Linked DNA regions of Homo sapiens. The protein of the gene in region 2 purifies or fractionates together with the protein of the main gene of each other region. This does not show direct contact. Each region holds a gene or a part of one and is shown on either strand. Other genes may lie near its edges.

What was found.
Region 1: the proteins of MTMR2 (region 2) and SBF1 purify together in Homo sapiens (affinity purification with mass spectrometry; 6 studies listed by BioGRID and IntAct, with this or other methods). This does not show direct contact.
Region 3: the proteins of MTMR2 (region 2) and SBF2 purify together in Homo sapiens (affinity purification with mass spectrometry; 3 studies listed by BioGRID and IntAct, with this or other methods). This does not show direct contact.

What each region holds. Positions count from the first base shown.
Region 1 is NC_000022.11:50,458,036-50,465,103, forward strand, and holds part of SBF1 (myotubularin-related protein 5), read right to left. Parts: coding exon 6,966-7,068; intron 6,883-6,965; coding exon 6,784-6,882; intron 6,704-6,783; coding exon 6,499-6,703; intron 6,407-6,498; coding exon 6,294-6,406; intron 5,398-6,293; coding exon 5,248-5,397; intron 4,904-5,247; coding exon 4,835-4,903; intron 4,683-4,834; coding exon 4,524-4,682; intron 4,439-4,523; coding exon 4,170-4,438; intron 4,085-4,169; coding exon 3,912-4,084; intron 3,835-3,911; coding exon 3,761-3,834; intron 3,684-3,760; coding exon 3,488-3,683; intron 3,252-3,487; coding exon 3,124-3,251; intron 2,678-3,123; coding exon 2,499-2,677; intron 2,374-2,498; coding exon 2,237-2,373; intron 2,125-2,236; coding exon 1,917-2,124; intron 1,632-1,916; coding exon 1,435-1,631; intron 1,358-1,434; coding exon 1,220-1,357; intron 1-1,219. UniProt on the Homo sapiens protein: Acts as an adapter for the phosphatase MTMR2 to regulate MTMR2 catalytic activity and subcellular location. Promotes the exchange of GDP to GTP, converting inactive GDP-bound Rab proteins into their active GTP-bound form.
Region 2 is NC_000011.10:95,832,329-95,837,522, forward strand, and holds the end of MTMR2 (phosphatidylinositol-3,5-bisphosphate 3-phosphatase MTMR2), read right to left. Parts: intron 3,997-5,194; coding exon 3,820-3,996; intron 3,124-3,819; coding exon 2,962-3,123; 3' UTR 552-2,961; downstream 1-551. UniProt on the Homo sapiens protein: Lipid phosphatase that specifically dephosphorylates the D-3 position of phosphatidylinositol 3-phosphate and phosphatidylinositol 3,5-bisphosphate, generating phosphatidylinositol and phosphatidylinositol 5-phosphate.
Region 3 is NC_000011.10:10,290,872-10,299,122, forward strand, and holds the start of SBF2 (myotubularin-related protein 13), read right to left. Parts: upstream 3,349-8,251; 5' UTR 3,199-3,348; coding exon 3,144-3,198; intron 1-3,143. UniProt on the Homo sapiens protein: Guanine nucleotide exchange factor (GEF) which activates RAB21 and possibly RAB28. Promotes the exchange of GDP to GTP, converting inactive GDP-bound Rab proteins into their active GTP-bound form.

The DNA.
Region 1 (7,068 bases), on a different chromosome or scaffold from region 2:
ACGCCTGTAATCCCAGCACTTTGGGAGGCCGAGGCGGGCGGATCACCAGGTCAGGAGATCGAGATCATCCTGGCTAACACGGTAAAACCCTGTCTCTACTAAAAATACAATACAAAAAAATCAGCCGGGCGCGGTGGCGGGCACCTGTAGTCCCAGCTACTCGGGAGGCTGAGGCAGGAGAATGGCGTGAACCTGGGAGGTGGAGCTTGCAGTGAGCCGAGATCGCACCACCGCACTCCAGCGTGGGTGACAGAGAAAGACTCCGACTCAAAAAAAAAAAAAAAAAAAGGTCAGGGCTGGGACTAGAAGCCACGACTACAGCTGAGTGAAGCTTGAGCCCCTGAGCATTGCTGGGCACTGAGGGGGACACGGGGAGGCAGCAGCCACTGGCACTGGGGATGGTCGGAGACGCAAAAGGGACTCTGTGGGAAGCACAGGCATGGGGGGTGCAGGGGCGGCCCCACCTGCAAATGCCACTCAGGGTTTCTGGCAGGGGTGGGAAGGCAGCAAGACAGGGCGATTGTAAAATGTAAGTATATAATGTGGTATCTGGAAAAACAAAACCACTTCTGAACTAGAGAACAGGTGGTCCGGACACAGGAGTGAGTGTGGGGCCTATCTGCCACCCCGTCCTGGGGCCAGTCTAGCTCAGTGTGTGCAGGGCGCCTGTGAAGTGTGCGTGGCGGTGGGGACAGAGACAGCAAGGCCAGCTCGGGCAAGGCCCAAGGAACCAGGACACACGAGGACAGAGGCCAAGCTGCAGGCAGAGCCAGGCCAGAGGCTCCAAAGACAGTCTGGATTGGGGGATGCAGGGAGGGTGGAGTGTGGGGGATGAGGAAAAACAGTGACACTGGGAGGGAACAGGACAGAGGAGCATCTGGGATGTTTCCAGGCTGTGGGAAATGGTAAGACAGAGCCGCGTAGAGGCAGCACCCGGAGGACCCTACAGGAAGCTGCAGCAGACGCAGAGGTGGAGAGCGGGCAGGACGTCAGGGCGGGCAGGAGGTCAGGGCACACACCTGGTCTGGGCACACACTTGGTCTGGACAGGCTTCCCGCCCCTGCCCCACGGCACCCGGAGGGCATGCTCCTCATCCCACACCCAAACATCCATGACCAGCGCCGTTTCTGCTCCTCCCTGGCCTGCCTGCCAAACCATAAATGCCACCACGGCCCCCCAAAGTGCCCCTGCCCCACCGTCTGCCCACAAGCACCCTCACCGTGACTGCCCATGTGGGCTGAGGAGAAGCCGCTAAGCGTGTTGCGTCCCGACGCGTCGGCGTAGCGGGGCATGGAGCTGACCACAGCCTGCAGGTACTTCTCCTGCTCCAGGCTACTCGAGTCCGCCTGGGACTGGCCTGGGGGAGGACACGGAGCTGAGGGAGGGGAGGGTGAGATAGGGCAGGGCAGGCACAGGGCAGGACGCAGGAGGTACCTGGAGAAGGTGCGTTCTGGGCCTTGAAGAGGCCGACGACACCTTTGCCATGCAGGCCTCCAGAGCGCAGCAGCACCGCCTTGGACCGCCCGCTGCGCCAGCAGACCACGGGGAAGCGGTTCTGGCGGTAGCAGCGGGACACGCGCTGCAGGGCGTTGTCCTGGACACTCTGGGGCACGATCAGCAGCCCTGGGTAGCTGAGAGGAGGCAGAGGCGTGAAGGTGGCTGGCGACCCCACCCGCCTCCAGGCTCACGCCCCAAGCAGGGCAAGAGGAGCCAGCCCATGGCTCCCAGCAGGAGGCGCTTCCAGCTCAGCCACGGGGCCCCCCAGCCACCCCCCAGCCCTGTGGCCCGTCCCTCTGCCCGGAGTCTCCCCCTCCACATTCCTTACATGACCAGAAGCCGTGGCCCAGGCCCACAGCGGGCAGGGAAGACACCCAGTCACGTGTCCACCACCCGGGCCAGCCCTGGCCGGCCCTCACCTGCGGCAGATGGCATACATGCGGTTGACCGGAGAAATGCGGAAGGGCTCAGACTTGGCCCGGCTCAGGCTGCTGCTCAGGGTGCCCAGACCGAGGCGCTGGTAGTCGCGACAGCAAGCCCTTTCCACCAGGCTGCTCATGGTCATGCGGTCGGAGGGCTTCAGGGCTGAGGACGGGGTCAGCGTGCTGGGCTCCAGCTCCTCCGACACTGCACAGGCCGGGCACACGTGGTCATCACGGGGCCACTCCGCCTGCCCTGATCCTCCCTGGCCAATGTCAGCATCCAGAGACCACCCAGGACTCCACCCCCACCCCTCCACCTGAGATCTCGTCCTCCTGGTCCTCAGGGGGCGGCTGGCCCCGGTGCTCCCAGCTGGGGGGGTTGTACTTCTTGCGAGTGACATGCTGCCGCCCGATGGTCTTCTTGGCGTTCTTGACCAGGTTCCGGGACAGGGTTCTGAGGCCCACGAGAGTCAGCAAAGGTGAGAGGAGGAGGGACAAAGATGAGCACAGGGGCCTAGGAGGGTTGGAGCGGGAACACGGCTGAGGCCCAGCTGCCCTGCCTGGGACCCAGATCCATACCTGAGGGAAGGACCCTTGTCCTTGGTGACTCGCGGTGGCCGGCCAGGTGTGTGGGCAGAGCCCAAGGTGAACGCAAAGGTGGCCCTGATGTCCGGCGGGTACCGCAGCTTATGCAGCTGCTTACGGAAGAGCTCGGCGCTGTCAGACCCCACCTCCTCGTCAAAGGCCATTTTCAGCAGCTGTGTCAGTAAAAGCAGCCCTTAGGGGTGTGGGTGGCCCCCCAGCCCCTCCCCCAACTCTGACACTGCCAGGCTCCCCTTCCCCTCGCAGCCATGACAGAGAGAGAAGCAGGCCCCAGGCAAAGGCCTGTATCTGTGTCACACGAAGGCAAGCGCTTGTGTAAACTCGAAATCTCAGTGGCTGTGAGCTGAGGCCTGGGTTTGCAAGGCACACCCAAGACACGGACTTGAGGGCCGGCGCCCCAAGGAAAGGACAAGGACCCAAAGACCGCACATCAAACAGTGGACATCAACTCAAGAGCCACAGTGAGGGCCCCAGACATGCAAGCGTAACAACAGGGCCACTGCTGGAGACTGGCCTAAAAATGGTTCATACAAGAAAGACCGGTTTGCAGGAGAAAGACCAGGGCGGGGGATGAGAGCCCCACCCGCGCACCGCGCCCCACCTGGAATGTGCAGGAGCGCAGCTGGAGCCCGTCCTGCAGGAGCTGGTCCACAGGGGTCTGGACGCTGATGCGCTTCTCCTTGGTCAGCGCAGCCACCGGGAAGGAGCGGACCACCACCTGCTCCCCAACTTAGGACAGGCCAGGCAGAGTCAGAAGCAAGGAAGGTAAGGGGGGGGGGGTCCCAGAATCTCAGGGTACCACAGTTATGGGGAATCCCAAGTGGGTGGGGAAGGAGCAGACAAAGGCCCGTTTCCCACGGGCACCCAGAACCCCCGAGAAAAGGGAGAGGGAGGCAGGGAAAGCCCATCCATCCCAAAGACCTGGGGGAGAGGGGGCGACAGGGCCAGAGAGTCTGCAGGCTCACCCAGGGGGTCCGTGGGCATCCCCGTGAAGATGACCCGGTACGTGGTGAGGAAGACGGCGCCCTCAGCTGGGAGCAATGCTGGTCCCCCAGCACTGCCCCCCGCGCCCTCCTCACGCCCATCCGGCAGCAGGTAGACGCGCAGGCCGTCCAGCACACACTCCTCACCCGGCAGCAGGCGCGGCCGCAGCAGCTTGGGCTGCTCGAAAACAAGAGCAGGAGCTCAGGATGCAGCCCGGGCCTTGGGCCCCCGCAGCCCCAACGGCCCCCGCAAACCTTCTGGATGGGCGGCAGCCTCCGGCTCTCCCGCTGCACGGCCTCCAGGGTCTCGATGTGCATCTGGACAATGTCTGGGGGAAGACAGTTCTCACACTTTGTGCCCAGCCCCACCCATCCAAGGGGGAATCACCAGCCCAAACCCCCGTACCTGGCACCATGACATGCAGCCCCTTGAGGTGGTCGCTGGTGACCCCACTCTCCGTGCAGACCTTGTCCACAAAGCGGTTGATGAAGCGGACCACAGCCCCAGCTACGTCGCAGGTCTCTGCATCCTCGAAGCCGCTCTCCGTGTCATAGCTCTCGGCCACACTGCCAGCCATGCTGGGCCAGAGAAGAAACTGTGGGCATGGGCCCTGCCCACCACGGCCCCGCCTCCACTGGGCCCAACCCCCAGTCCCTGCCTCACCTGTTGGTGACCAGGCTGTTGCTGGCGCTCTCCAGGTCGCCCAGCCCGGCACGCTCCCGAAGTAGGCGGCTCTTGCTGCTGTCCAGGGGCAGGAGGAGGTAGCTCATGCGGTTGGCATAGTGGATGGCCTGGCTGAACACCGTGCTCTCCTCCTTCTGCACCAGCTCCTGCTGCTTCTCACGACTCAGAGTTGGCCACAAGCGCCGCTGCTCAGAAGCCACGTCTAGGGCAGAGCGCTCGTCCTCCTGGGAAGGTGCCTCCCCAACCTCCTGCCACGGCACCACACGCATGAGCCGGGGCCACGCTGCCCCAGCCCCTAGCCCCCAGCCCCCAGCCCAGGGAGTCCCTGCGCACCTGGGCGGGGGCCAGGTCCTCCGTGGGCTCCAGGTAGAGGGCCCGGATGTGAGTCTGCACATCCCCATAGAACATGGCCTCCCAGAACTGTGGCGTGCTCCACACCACGTGCTCCTGCACACAGCTGTATGCAAACTGCGTCACCCCCGGGCTCAGCTTCTGCAGGAGCCAGGGGAGAAGGTCAGCTGGATGCAGCCAGGAAGGGCGGCTGGGAAGGAGACCTCGGCCACCAGGAAGGGGGGCTGGGAAGGAGACCTCAGCCACCAGGAAGGGGGGGCTGGGAAGGAGACCTCAGCCATGCCAGCACTCACCCGGCAGAAGGCTGTGACCAGAGGCAGCAGAGCCGCCGCAATGCCATGCTCGTCCAGAGAAGTGCAGTCCTGCAGGTAGAGCGAGAGACCGTCAGGACCTCTCCCCTCCCAGGCAGCACTCACCTCCCACCATGCCCCCACCACCCCATAACCACCACAGACCAGCACCTGACACCCTTGGCTCCAGCTCCCCAAGGCTGCCTCAGAGGCTCAATATCAGGAGACCCCAGGCCCCAGCACCTGCCCCCAACAATGGTTCTCTCCACCCTGTTCCCTGCAGACCGAGGACCCCTGCCCACTGGCACAGGAGTCTCTTGCACCGTCTCTCCACTCTCACTCACAGACCAGGGTCTGCCCGCCTGTTCCCGCTCATGCGCCATGAGCCATGTCACTAGCAGGATAAGAGGCCTCACCTGCAGGCAGCAGTTCATCATACGGACGACAAAGTCAAACTGCTGGTGGTCCAGGACCGCACGGTTCTGCTGCACATGCAGGTGCAGCTCCTGGGCGAGGCAGCGGCGGGCAGCTCGCCCCTTCAGGGCCCTCAACACGGCTGGGAGCAGCTGGGGGTGGGGAAAGGAGACACGGGCTGAGGGCACAGAGAAGACCCACTCGGGGCCCTGGCAGGGAGGGCAGCAGGTGTCCAGGAGACCCAAATGCCTTTCAGGTGGGGTGTGCCAGACTCTGGGGCTTTGCCGACCAATAAAGACTAAAACCTCCAGTGGGCCCGACAACTCCACAAGTACAAGTTCACCAGGCCAGACACAAGGACGCAGATGCTGCACCTGTGAGCTGGCAGGGAGGTGCGCTCCGGAGGGAGGCCTTGCGGGCCGGGCCCCCTTGCTCACAGGCTCACAGCTGCCTGGCTGGCTCAGTGACTCGCCTGGCACAGGCCCGGCCACAGAAAGCCTTGGAGTTTGCGTTCTATTGCTACAACGTTCATCACAAAACTGGCCGCCCCAAAGGGACACCATACAGCCAATGAAAAACAAGAGTCTCCAACTGGCCATGATGAAAGACCCCAGAGGCGTTAAGTGAGCACCACAGAGAGCAAAACAGCAGGAGCAAAAAGCTCTGTTTCCATAAGATGCAAGGAACAGGTCACGTATGGAGGGAGCAAGCTCTGTTTTCCATCAAGTACAAAGAACAGGTCGTGTATGGGCCTACCCAATTTAAGGGGAAGGACACAGACGAAACATAATAGTGAAACCTTCTGATTTCTAAAAATGGAAGTACATCTCCCTGGCTGGGTCTCCCGCGCAGGCCCGACCCACCCCTCACTGAGGTCAAGAGAGGAGACCTGGAGCCCACCTACCCTCCGGCCAGCCCAGCCACCTCTAGCTGTCTGTTAGGCAGAGGAGGCCCTGGGGCAGCGTCAGCACTCACAAGGGTGAAGTGCAGCCTGGGTCTCCTCTGAAACCCGCTGCCCTGGCCCGGCTGGAGCCTGCACAGCCCTCACCTTCTTGGCCTCAAGCATTTTCCCCTCAAACACGTAGGAGATGCAGTTGCGCACAACCTCCAGCCGCCGGGCGCTGTTGACATGCAGCCCACTGCACCGCTCCAGTATGGCAGCTGCGGGGACAGAATACACACACTCGGACCCCTGACCCCACGCCCATCCTGGGCCACGCTCGGGGCCTGCCTTCCCCTCCCTCATTACGCACTCATGGGGGGCCCTGAGGGCACGGTGGTCCTCCTCTCGGCCTTCACAGCTGGGGGTGCACCCTGCATCTTGGCTGCAGCCTGGTCCACGATCCACTGCACGGTGCCCTCATCCAGCCGGGGGAAGGGTCGGGGCACCCGTCGCAGGTGGCTGCTCTCACCGGGCCTCTGTACCTTGTGCATCGCCACGGCTGGGTACGGGTTCTCCTGTGGGGAGACGGCAGGTGTGGGGCAGGGGCCCAGGGATCAAGGCGGTACGACGCCCTCCCGTCCTGCTACCCTCGTACGTTCTTGTAGAGCTGCTCTGCCAGTTCCTGGACGTGACGCAGGACACGCTGGGGGTGGTTCTCATCCGCCCGCATCCTTGCCACCTCGTGGGCCACCAGCTAGCGGGGTAAGCAGGAGGTTAGGTAAGCCATGGTCAGGCGGAGCCAGGGCAGGGGGCTGGGAGGGCAGGGTGGAGGTGCACCTCATCGAACAGGTCCGTAGGGCGGTATGGGACCCCACGCTCTGACACAAAGCCAGCAAAGGCCATGCCCTCCAGCACCTTCATCAGGAAATCGTCCTCTACC
Region 2 (5,194 bases):
AGAAAAAACTAGTACTTAGTTGCCACACTCATGCTTACATAGAAAGAGAGCCCAAGAATATTAGATTTCCTCATGATACAAGATACTACAGTAACAGGCTTTAATTTAGGATCCTTAAGATTTTGGGGTATTATTTGTGACTCTCCTGAAATTGTAAACTTGTGCTTCTGTGTCCAGTTTTCTAATGAGTAGGTTCGTAGCTTGATTGAATTAATAATTGTGAGCCCATAGACACAAGGGAAGTGAGAAACAGTGCTCTGGTGACATGATAAATATATGTGTCAACCACCATTTCAGCTATTAAAAACTCCTGTTATCTCCTTGTTTGAATTTCAGGTCATTAAATTGTATAACCATCATTTGAATTGTAGTGGCTCTGAGTCCTAATTAGGAGAATGGTGATTGAATGATGCTAAATCCCACCCCTTTTCTCAGCTAGGATTCAAACTGAACTACTCCAGCTTTTTGTACTGTCAGGTGAGAAGTGAAAAAATACTGCTTCCATTTTCTTATCTGCAAGTTTACAGTAGAGGAATGTGTCATCCATCCACTTACGTTGTAACAGAGCTTTATTGCAATTCATTTCAAATAAGGTTATGTTTACAGACTTGTGGTAGACATGTGAATTGTTCATTCCAATATAATGTGAATTGCAGTGGTAGTAGCGGTATACACAGTGCTATGGGGGCACAGAGGAAGGTGGGGATGTCAGAGAAGGCAGTCGTGAATCAGATAACTTCCCAAAGGAAGAGATGATGCCTAAACTCTAGAAAATAGGAATTAGTCACAAGGGAGAACAGTTGTTCCAGGTGCACAAGACAGACTGAACCAAAGTGGGGAGGCAGGAATCTGCAGATTACATGAGGCAATTGTGAACAGCAGAGTAGCATTGGTACGTAAAAGTTGAGGTATGCAGAGACTAGGTCGAAGGAGGCTAAGGAGCTTCAACTTAATCATACTGGTCTCTAAATTTTGTAACCCTAATCAAAAAGGGAAAAAATTACACCTGCACAACCAATAGACATACAAAGTTATGAAACATGTAACTGTCAATTCAAATATTTAAAAGTTTTGCTTGTGTAAATATATAAAAAGGGCTAGTATTCCTCCTCCCTCCCTCCCACACACACCAGTGGTATATATTAAATGCCCAAGTGCATGTACTCCATATTGGAGACTTCTGCAGAAGGTGAGGGGAACCACTGGAAGGTTCTCAGCAGAGAAGTGGTAGGGTTGCACTTAGATTTCCCTGGCTTTTGATTTGAATTTGAAGTGGATGCAAGTATGTTAAGACTAGAAGCTTTAAATTCTTGATCTCTTCAGCCATTCTACATTCTTTTATGTGGTATCAGGCCAAGATAACCAAGGTTTAAATGAGGAAAATGGCAGATGCGTTTGTGAAATACTTGGAGTAGAAAGCTTAATTTTTAATTACTGATTTGCTAGCCACTTAAATGCCCTGTTAAAAAGCTTATATTTCACACAATTACCAAAGAAATCATTTTGGTACCAATTTTGCTAAATTGGATATACTAATAGAAACTTCCTCACTGCAAGACCAAGAGGGAGGCTAAGGTTCAGACTCTCTGTATAGTGAATTAGTGAGTGGAAAAACACTGTATATTTTAATTGTTTGATTTGGGTGTTGGTTAAGGAAAAATGGGTACAAACTGAACATTTTCATCTGGGGTGCATATTCCTCCAATAATTTCCAAATATTTCTGGGGAAAAAAAAGAAATGGCAACTTTGGACAAGAACAAAGTTTAAAAGTCAGTTGGAATTTCTTTTAATTAAAAGACCAAGGGGACAAGAAGCTCCTTTGTTACAGTACATTACATATGGCTCTTATGTAGAATAAAATAGACATCAGAGTCAAATGTTTCTACCAGCACCAAACTCTTACTTGTAGCAGGTGAACAGTGAAGCAAGATTTCTTTTACTGGCTTTGAGATTGTAATACATCTTTTACATGCAGTGTGTTCTTTGGTAGACTTAATCGTTGAGTGAAATTACAGAATTTGCAAAGGAAAAAAATGTAAAATTTGAGCACAGTACTTCTCACTATAAGCTATTTATACAGAATTCAGAAAAAATGTCAATCCTAGTAAGATTTTTAAATACTTCTTAAAAACTTGCTAATTAGCTTCTGTGTGTTCAGACACACAAGACAAGTGAAATACACTGTAGTAAATAATTAGTTTTTAAAATATCTTTCATGATGTTTCTGGTAATTGGGCTAATCTGAAGGGCATGGAATTCTTTGAACTCCTGTATGGCTACTTTCTCCCCTTCATTTTCCCCCAAGCACATCTATAAGGCCTCCCATTTTGGATCAACTTGCTAATATGTCTTAAGTATGTAAATAATGACGGCAATAATTTTCAACTACTACCACACCGTAGTATCTTCAACACTTTGCCTTTTACTATATGAAGAATATGGAAGTTGAAAAGTGATCAAGGTAAATCAGTTACTGAAAAAAAGAAAAACCTAGAATGGAGAAAGGGATATCAAATGATTTTGATCTGTCATGACATCAAGGCCCAATATATGTGATGCCACAGAATTTCAGTGTTGGTTTGAAAACTGATGTTCCTCTGCACAGTGAGCACAGAGTGTATTTCTAAAATGGTTTTAATATTACCAGATGCCAAAAATTTGTAACAGCATTTGCCTTTTAATAGAAACTTGTTCCCACTGTGAATCCAGGATTGAAGTATTTTAATATTCTTTGGATACTTAAAAGATTAGTATCATAATCATGTAATTACATATGGAGTTACTTCACTTAAGCCACCTGCACTGCTACAGTTCTAAACTCATCCTAGAGAGATTTAAAATAAATAAAGTGACTGAACTTTCTCTCATAGATGGGTTCTAAATTCCGAAGACTTTCTACTCATAGAGCTGCCAGTGTAATCAAGAGTGTATAGCAATGATGCCCCTGATCTTACAGTCCTTTATACAACAGTTTGGACAGGAGTGACACACTGTGCAGGAGAGCTGGCTCTCTCTGAGGATGAGGTTGATCGGTTAGAAATCTCTCTCTGTAGTTCCTCTACTTTTTTCTGAAGCTCTGCTCGTTTAGCAAGAAGTTCTTTGTATCTGTTGTGAATAGGTTCCTGCAAGAGCAAAACATAAAATATTCAACTAGGCAATCCTGACCAAAGCCAGGTCAAATCATTCCCTAAATGTTGCAGTGTATGTTTTTTCAGCTGTTGGAACCAATGGCACCTTTCCAACCCATCAGTGAAATTAAATACCGGGACTGTGGACACCACTAATCTTTTCACTGGCTTTCCCAGTGCCCCTGAGTATTTCCAAAGAATAACCTGCTGTGTAGGTGCTCCTGAAACTGGTACTTTTCCAAATACAACAAATAATTAACAAGACAATTAAAAGACAGTAGTCAGAAGATTCCCTGTTATTTATAGGTTTTTAGTCTTAAACAGTTCTAAGTAGTTAATATTCCATAAACATATTCACAGTAGACCAGAATTTTGTTCAGCTTTTAACTTTCCTAAAGCTACTTTCTTCAGCTTATTAAAACAAGACCCCCTAGAGGTTATCCAGACAGAGGAGGGAAGATGCAAGAAAAGAGAGCAGTGATTTGTCCAATGTCATACAAGCAGTCCTAAGAACCAGGTATACTGATTACCCTGCCCCAGTGTAGTATTTTTCTACTATACGATTGTTAACTATCAATGGGTAAGGAGTAAAGTTTTAAATATGCACAGATAATCTTTCCAGCTGCTTTTAAGGAGACAAAGTTGCACTGCATGAATGAAAACTCCCATTGTATATTGTAAGGCACATACCTGTGGTTTCATCCGTGGATTCCACCTTATGTAATATCCCACCCAGAGCTCTAGGTGGCGCATGCTGGCTACTGGATAAAGGACATGATTGGAATAGCTCCCATAGAGAGGATTAGTGAAGTCTTCCAGCTGGCTGTTTATGTAAGACCACAGTGACACAGTCCTTTTAGGAAGATTCTGTAGGCAGGAAAAATAGGTAAAGATTCTCCACCACATAAGCCATTTACACTTTAGATGAAATTTGTGAAGAAGTACTTTGTTGTCATTAAAATCTCTTTAGAGGAAGTGGACTTGGAGACTTCAGTGATAAACCAACTTATATTAAGATCAGAGGGTACTGGAAAACAGTATGCAGTTCCTCAAAGAGATACCATATGACCCAACAATTCCACTCTTGTACATATCCAGCAAACAGAAGACATGTCTGTACAAAAACTTTTTTATAGATGTTCAAAGCAGCATTATTCATTAACAGCCAAGAAGTGGGAACAACCTAAAAGTCCATCAACTGACGAATGGATAAGTAAAATATATCCACACAATGGAATATTATTCAGCCATAAAAAGAAATGATATAAAATGTATGAACCTTGAAAGCATATTAAAGGAAAGGAGCTAGACACAAGGTTTACATATTAAATGATTCCATTTATATGAAATGTCCAGAAGAGGCAAATCTAGAGACAAAAACATTAGTGTTTGGCAGGGGTGAATGGGGAGTGACTATTAACAGGTTTTCTGAGGTGATGAAATGTTCTGAAATGAAAATGTGATGGCTGTACAACTCAGATATACTAAAAACCAGTCAACTATACACTATCAAAGTGAATTTCATGGTATGCATATTATTATCAATTTAAAAAGTTTTTTTAAAAATAATCAATGATTCCTACCCCAAGGCTCTCAAAAAATAAAACTCTTCGAAACTTAGCTATGCTATTTCTAATGAACATTCCTTAAGTTGTTGAGTGCCTGCTATGCATAGAAATACTTACTGCATGCTAGACACTGAAGACATAAGGTGAATTTAAAAATTTAATACCTGCCTTTAAGGAAGTCTAGGAAATACTACATAGCAGTTCTTGTGGTATTTTGTATTGCTTATTTAATAATCTTCATAATTTTACAAAAGCAGACATTAACTTCCCCAAGCGAACTGTTACAGTAAGTGATAGATCCAGGATTTGAACCCAGCAACTGGGCTTCAGTGCAAGTACTTATTCCTACTGTGCTTTATAAAATAAAACATAAATACTTTGTAACCACATTTTTTAGAATAAAAGTTGATGCAGAGGGAGATACCAATCAAGATGATTAAGATGTTGATACATAGGATAGACAAGTTTTGATAAAGAAGTAAAACTTGAAATGTAAT
Region 3 (8,251 bases), about 86 Mb from region 2:
AGCCCAACAGCAATAAACACACTAGCCTTGAGATCTTAGCTTCTAAATGTCATTCTCCACTAAAAGGAACCAGGGATCCCTAAATGGCTGATTACAGAACCAAGGCATGGAAAGTACAAGATGAGCCAGGAACAGGTTCTTGTGCCAAAAAGTACAAAGTTGTTCTCAAAGAGTGATGGGGATGTACCATAAGAACACAGAAGCCAGCTTGTACAACTCTCATTGGCCATATAAAGAACAATTTGAACATCAAAATAAATAATGCTATAGTCTGAATGTGTATGTCCCCTCCCAAAATTCGTATGTTAAAATCCTAACACCCAAAGTGATGGTATTATGAGGTGAGGCCTTTAGGAAGTGATCAGGTCATGGTGGTGGAGTCCTTGTGAATGGGATTAGTTCCCTTTTTAAAGAGACCCCAGAGAGCTCATTTGACCCTTAAGCCATATGAGGTTAAAGTGAGAACATGGCTATGAGGAAGCATGTCCTCACCAGACACTGAATCTGTCAGAGTCTTCATCTTGGATTTCTCTGCCTCCAGACTGTGAAAAATAAATTTCTATTGTTTATAAGCCACCCAGTTTGAGGTATTTTTGTTATAACAGCCCGAATGGACTAAGGCAAATAGTAACAGAATATAATCCGCGAGCTCCCCTTTCTGGTCTCACTTCGGCTGGATGTGCTTAGACTCTCCTATTTCCCACTCAAGCCAGTGCTTCGGGCAGGTGGGCTAGTGACTTTTTCCGAATAGACTAAGGCAAATAGTAACAGAATATAATCCACTAAACACACACACACACACACACACACACACACACACACACACAGACTCCATGTAGATGTCAATAAATGATTAAGAGTTTAGTGAGGAACAAGATATTTACATAGTTTCAAAGTACATGGCAAAAACAATTAAGTATTAACTTTACAGTGGAGAAGCCTCGCAGATATTACTTATATCAAGTAATCAAAGTAAAAATAACCAACAATGAAACAAAGTGAAATTGTGCACCACCTGACAGGATGCAGTGAGCATCACTTCTGTGATATCCTTCCCACGTGCATATTCGTATGTATCTAATCATGAAGGAACAGACAATCCCAAATTGAGGGGGCAGCCTACAAAGTGACTGACCTGTAATTGTTAAATATGTTAAGGTCATGAAAGTCAGGAGAAGATAAAGGAAATGTTCCAGATTGAGGGAGACAAAAGAGACATAACATGAATGCAACACATATTGCTAAACTGGATCCTTTTGCCAGTAAAGAGATTACTAGCACAATCAACAAAACTTGAACCAGTCTGAGAACTAGATGGAGTACTGTATCACTATCCATTTCCTGTTTTGGTTATTACACTGTGATCATGTAGGAGAACATTCTTGTTTGCAGAAAATGCACATTAAAGTATTCTGGGATGACAGGGCATCAGGTCAACAGCTTCCTCTCAAATTGTTGGGGGGCGGGTAGAATTTTTTGTACCATTCTTGCAACTTTTTTGCAAGTCTGTTATTGTTTCAACATTGTTGGCCGGGCGTGGTGGCTCAAGCCTGTAATCCCAGCACTTTGGGAGGCCGAGGCCGGTGGATCACGAGATCAGGAGTTCAAGACCAGCCTGGCCAGGATGGTGAAATCCCGTCTCTACTACAAATACAAAAATTAGCGGGCGTGTTGGCGGGCGCCTGTAAATCCCAGCTACTCCGGAGGCTGAGGCAGAGAATTGCTTCAACCCGGGAGACAGAGGTTGCAGTGAGCCAAGATCGCACCACTGCACTCCAGCGTGGGCAACAGAGCAAAACTCCGTCTCAAAAAAAAAAAAAAAAAAAATTGTTTAAAAGTGGGGAGGGGGGGAGGCGGAACAATGTCACTAAAAACTAAAGGTTAAAAAACTGATTTCCCACACTTAATCTTGATAGAAAAGAAACATCAGACTATGCCAAATTACTAGGAAATAAAATTTTGGATCCAGAAGTTTAAACATTTAAACTTTCTCTTTAACAATTGACCTCAATCAGGTCATGACTGGTGAAAGAGAAAAGAACATGAAAGGTTCCCACTAAAGGAGAGGAAGTTCTTAGGAGAGGAATAATGAAAGAGAGAGTGGACCAAGAGTGGGTAGAACAATGGTATTCTGAGCTACCAATGGCTGTAACCATCAGGAAAACACAATCTCAGCATCTCTGAAAAATGAAGGGGCTGTAGAGCTGATATCTCAAATTCCTTGCAAATGTGGGACTAGAATTGCCCTAAAATAGAAGTGGTTTCCCAGCTCAATTTGTTATTACATTATGCTTAGCTACATAGTAATACAAGAGAATACAAATACAGAAATAAACGTGCATGAACCCTGAATTCTCTTAAGTTGTGGAAGTCCGTCAATTAAAGTGTAAAATACAATGCATTTGCCCAATTGTTCCTTACGACGAAAATTCTGTGACAAATAAAAAGAACAATGAAAACACATTAAAGTGAAACAAGATCACCTTCAGCGGTCAGCTGGCTGTCCTTAGTTAAAAGACAAGTCATGTCACTGTGAAGTGACCGTCACATTTGTCCTGAAAGAATAGGGAGCATTTCCTAGAAAGGGGTAAAAGTGCAAAGAATCCTGTCCCCTTCCCTGGTACCACGCGTTCCTTGGGGAGGTCACTAGGCCCCCAACAGCACAGGGGTGAGTTAGCACTGGACTCTCAGCACTTCCTTTCGGAGAGGACAACCCCCTGCGTCACTGGTTACTCACTCAGGATGCAGGGCAGAAGTTTATCCCCGAGGAACTTAGCACAGTTGGCTCCCGCCCTCCCAGCCTTGCGGTCCTGGGCCCAATCTCAGGGCTCTCTCTGCCCCGGGTACCCTGCAGCCTCCAGCGGGAGGGTCGCGAGACCCCAACTCGCCTCCGGCCCGCCCAGCGGGTGCGCCCAGGGGCTGGGCAGACGCGGCGTCTTCCCTCCCCCTACCGTCGTGCCGGCCCCCCCACGCCCACCGCCAGGCTCAGCCCAGCCGAGAAGGCCGGACGCCGACCGCCCGCTCCTCCGAGACTCGGCCTGGCCCTCCCCGACGCCCGTCCCCGACGCCCGGCCCCGCGGAGCCCACTGGACAGCGGCCGGGGGGCGGGGAGGCCCGGGGGCGGTGCCGCCCCACACCCTTACCTGGCTTCTCGTGGTCATAGCCTACCACGATGAAGTAGTCAGCCAGCCGGGCCATGGCCGCCGCCGCCGCGCTCGGGAAGCGGGTCCCCGTCGCCGCCCTCGCCGCCGCCGCCCACCCGGCCCGGGAGGGCTCAGCATTTTCCCTGCAGCGGCAGTAGCGGCAGCGGCAGCGCTTCAGCCATGTTTGACAACCGAGGCGCGCTCTGCGCTTGCGCGGCGCCTAGTGCCCGCTCCTCCCCCGCCCCCACCCGCGCTGGCTCGGCTGCCCCAAGCCCGGGCGGCGAGCCCACCTCCACCCTCCGCGGGCCTCGCGGACTGCTGCGCTGGGGGAGTGGGCGGTCGGGCGTGTTCCCGCCACGCGCCGCCACCGCGGCCCCTGGAGGTGGTTCACTTTGAGGCCTGGATGCTGCTTCACGGCCCCCTCTGCCTCCCTATTTTTCCTAAAGCAGGGGGTCCTTCCTTCCGCCTTCTCTATTCTGTTTGGATTTGGAAGAAGGGATGTGGAGAGTTGAGGGGTCACTTGGAAAGCTGGCTGCTTCCTCTGCTCCCCACCACCACCAAAGATGAAATTCTCCCGCCCTCGGTTGGAAGCAAGGAATTTGCATCGACAGGGCTTTTGCTGCACGTTTCCTGTTTATGTTGTGTAGATGGGAATTTTAGAAACATGCCACCGAGCAGACGGGGGAGGGAGAGGCTTTTACGCAATCCTCCAAGGAGCCTCGGGTTTCAATGCCGGGTGGGCCGGGGGCGGTCGGCCTGGGCTTCCCCCGGAGCGCCCGGGAGAGCCAGATTCCACCGAGGAACGCGGCATCCCCGGGATCCTCCCGAACTGGGCTGGCCTCTCCCTGGGGAGCCCCGCACGCCTCGGCTTGCTTCCCTCGCAGCGGTCCCAGGGCTCTCGCAGCCCGAGCAGGTGGACTTCCAACTTCCCTGCTCAAACATGCACAAAAATGAATAGATGGTCCCGTCCTTCCGTCTCGGGATTATCAAAGTCGCTTGCTTTTTTGTTGAACCTCCTATTGACCATTTCGAATTTGGCTGGTGTGACATTCAGGTGAACTCACTTTGTCATTTGTTAATATCTCACGAAGTTTTAGTAGAATTTGTACAAGTGGTAGACCAAAGTTTTGGAAATCTCCGTGGTTTAGAAGTTGTCTTTGTGGTTGCTTATCACTGCTCACTATTAATTGAGGGTTTGATCCTTCATATTTACACATAAGACAAGGCCTCTTAGCAAAGCGTCTAGTATATAGTAGGTGCCTACAAAATATTTTAAATGAGTAAATGTGCGATTTTCCCCAACGACCAGCAGGAAGCCGCAATGGCTCCAACTCTGAACTGAGAGAGTTGACATCTCAGCTCCTGAAGATTTACTCTGCTGTAATTTACTATTTCCCCTTTCTCTGCCACACTTGTTTCATCTACAAATTGGGAGGGTTGGGCTGCACTAGAACTGAAACTGAAGGAATACTTTAACTCCAGGACCTCTATGTCAGTTGCTAATGGTAAAACTGAATCAGCTGAATTTGCAAACGTGGAGGGAAGATAGTTTGATCCTGAAAATAATTAAACCAAAAAAAAAAAAACCTCAGTCATACCCCGTGCAGCAATCCTCTCTGTAACTTCCCTGAGAGCTCATCATCCAACTTGATCACTTTCAGTAAAAAGTAATCTTACTTCCTTGGGAGGCAGCGCATTCCACTGTTTAACAGCCCTATTGTTAGAAAGTTCTTCCTTATTATTTCAGAGTTGTCTTACTGTAACTTCCCCTGATTCTGCTCTCCGGAACTATCCAGAAAAAAAAAATCTATCTTCATATGATAGATTTTTAAGGCAGCTATCATATTCCTTCCCAACTTTTCTAAAAATAGGGCAAAATTCACATATTGTAAAATTAGCCACTTGAAAATGTAGAATTCAGTGGCAATTAAGTACATTCCCAATGCTGTACAACTACCATGTCTATCTAGTTACAAAACATTTTCATCACCCAAAAGAAAACCTCACAACCATTAAGCAGTCATTCTCATTCTCCCCTCCCACAGCCCCTGGCAATCACCATTTTGCTTTCTGTCTCTATGGATTTACCTATTATGAATATTTCATATTCATATCATACAATATGTGGGTTTTTTGTGTCTTGGTTTTTCTCACTTAGTATATTGTTCTCAGCTTGTTTACGGGCAGATACAGTACAAGGTTGTAGCATCACATTGAAGTATCAATACTTCATTATTTTTTATGACTCAATAATATTCCATTGTATATTGTGTTAGACTGTTCTCACGGTGCTAATAAAGACATACCCGAGACTAGGTAATTTATAAAGAGAAGAGGTTTAATTGACTCACAGTTCCACATGGCGGAAGGCAAGGAGAGCAAAGCGGCAGACAAGAGAGCTTATGCAGAACTCTCCTTTATACCATCAAATCTCATAAAACTTATTCACTATCACCACAACAGCAGGAGAAAGACCCGCCCCCATGATTCAATTACCTTCCACCGGATCCCTCCCATGACAGGTGGGAATTATGGGGTACAATTCAAGATGAAATTTGGGTGAGGACACAGCCAAACCATATCATATGTATATACCATATTTTGTTTATCTGGAACAACCCATATGGACATATGGGTTGTTTCCACCTTTTGGCATTGTGAATAGTGCTGCTTCAAACATGCATGTACATGTATTTGAGTACCTGTTTTCAATTTTGGGGATATATTCTTGGGATTGGAATTACTGGATTAAGTAGTTCTGTTACTACTGTTTTCCACAGTGGCTGCATCATTTTACATTTTCACCAGCAATGCACTAGGGTTCTGATTTCTCTGCATCTTTGTCAACTCTTGTTTTCCTGTTGTTTATGTTTTGTTATAGCTATCTTAGTGTGAAGTGATATCTCATTGTGGTCCTGTTTTGCCTTTCCCTAAAGACTAATGATGTTGAGGATCTTTTCATGTGTTTATTGGCCATTGCTAAATCTTCTTTGGAGAAATGTCTATTCAAGTCCTTTGCCCATTTTTTAATTGATTCTTTGTCTTTTTGAGGTTGAGTTGTAAGAGTTCTTTATATATTCTGGATACTAGTCCTTGTCAGATATATGATTTGCAGATATTTTCCCATTCTGTACGTTGTCTTTTCATTTTCTTTTTAAAATTGTTATGCCCTATTCCCCCCCCCAAATATTTCCTATTTTTATTTTATTTTTCATTTTATTTTTATGTAGAGATGTTGTATCATGATGTTGCCCAGGCTGGTCTTAACCTCCTGTCCTCAGGCAATCCTCCCACCTAGCCCTCCCAAGGTACTAGGATTAGAGGCATGAGCTTCCACACCCAGACTTCATTTTCTTGATAATGTCCTTTGGCTCAAAAAAGTTTTTAATTTTGATAAAGTCCACTTTTTTAGTTTGTTTCTATGCTTTTAGTGTTATATCTAAAAAATTATTGCCATATTAAAGGTGAGATGAAGATTTACTGGTTTCCTTCATAGTTTTAGCTCTTTAGTACTTTGACCCATTTTGAGTTAATTTTGTAGTGGTAAGGGGTCTTGTTTTACCTTTTAAATGTCTTGGCTTTTATTTCATTTGCAAGTACTCATTTAAATTATTTTAATTTTTTAAAATCAAAGTTTATTGTTTTTAAGCCTAGAATCAAATGCTATTCTGCTTTTAGGCATATTTCATCTGTTACTGTCATAAGTAGACTTCCAGTCCATTTGCAAATGCCCATTTTGTCACACAGAGATTTTAACATATCCTAGGTACATGTAGAAAGGCACTGTGTGTTTGTATATACATGTGAACATATTTTGTATACACTAAAGCTGTGCTTTGCTTCTCAGCCAACAGCTGCCAGCCTGTTGAAACTGATAAGCCCTGACAAGGCAGCCTGATTACTGAGGTTGGCTGAAAGCCAGACCATCCCCTACAATAACCACCATCACCTTTCACCAAAGAGAGAGAGAGTAAAGCAAGCCCAGATTTGTTTTCCTGAAGGCTGATGGGAGCAGGAAGGGAAGAAGGGTATGTAACACTATCATGATGTGTATGTGGCAGATACCTTTCTTTTTTGCTTTAGAAGACGAAATAGATGGAATGCGGTGGCTCACACCTGTAATCCCAGCACTTTGGGAGGCCGAGGCAGGTGGATCACCTAAGGTCAGGAGTTCAAGACCAGCCTGACCAACATGGTGAAACCCTGTCTCTACTAAAAACACAAAAATTAGCTGGGCATGGTGGCAGGTGCCTGTAATCCCAGCTACTTGGGAGGCTGAGGCAAGAGAATTGCTTGAACCCAGGAGGCAGAGGTTGCAGTGAGCCAAGATCGCGCCATTGCACTCCAGCCTGGGCAACAAGAGTGAAACTCCCGTTCAAAAAATTAAAATAAAAAATTTTAAAAAAGACAAAATAGAGCTAATTATCAGTGAGCAAGGCTTATCAGCCCATTGCCCCTAGTGGGCTATTGCGGAGTAAGTGGTTTGATCTGTACAGTCATTTCAAGTGCTTGCTGTGGTTAGCCACAGTAGTTCAAGGAGGCAGTATGAGAGTCAGACTTGAGCAAACATCACCAGGCAGGGCTGAGGCCTCTTCAGATCGTCTCTACCAAAGCATAACAAAGGAGACTATGCAGCTGTGGTGGAAAATTCCCTGATCCATTGCTATATTTTCAACCATTTAGTTCCCTAAGCAAGAAATTTAATGAATCTTACCCTTGACAGCTGCCTCTCAGCCCCACATTCATCACTCAGTCCTATTGTTCCTACTTCCCAAATATGTCCGCTTCTCTCCACCCTCACTGCCACCCCACTAGTTTGAGCCGTTATCACCTTCTACCTTTATTATTGCAATAGGTTCTTAACTGTTTTCCCAGCTTCACCGATGGTTTCAAACTTTCTATATAGGTAAAAGTTAAGGACAGTAAGCAGGTTATTGAACCTGTCTCAAAATTAAATTTGTATAGCAAACACACCATTTCTACCTTGAGTGTGTGTTTGGGGTGCAAAGAAAAGGCTTCATAGATGACGTAGAAAGTGTCCTGGCCAGGTGTGGTGGCTCACGCCTGTAATCGCAGCACTTTGGGAGGCCAAGTTGGGCGGATCATGA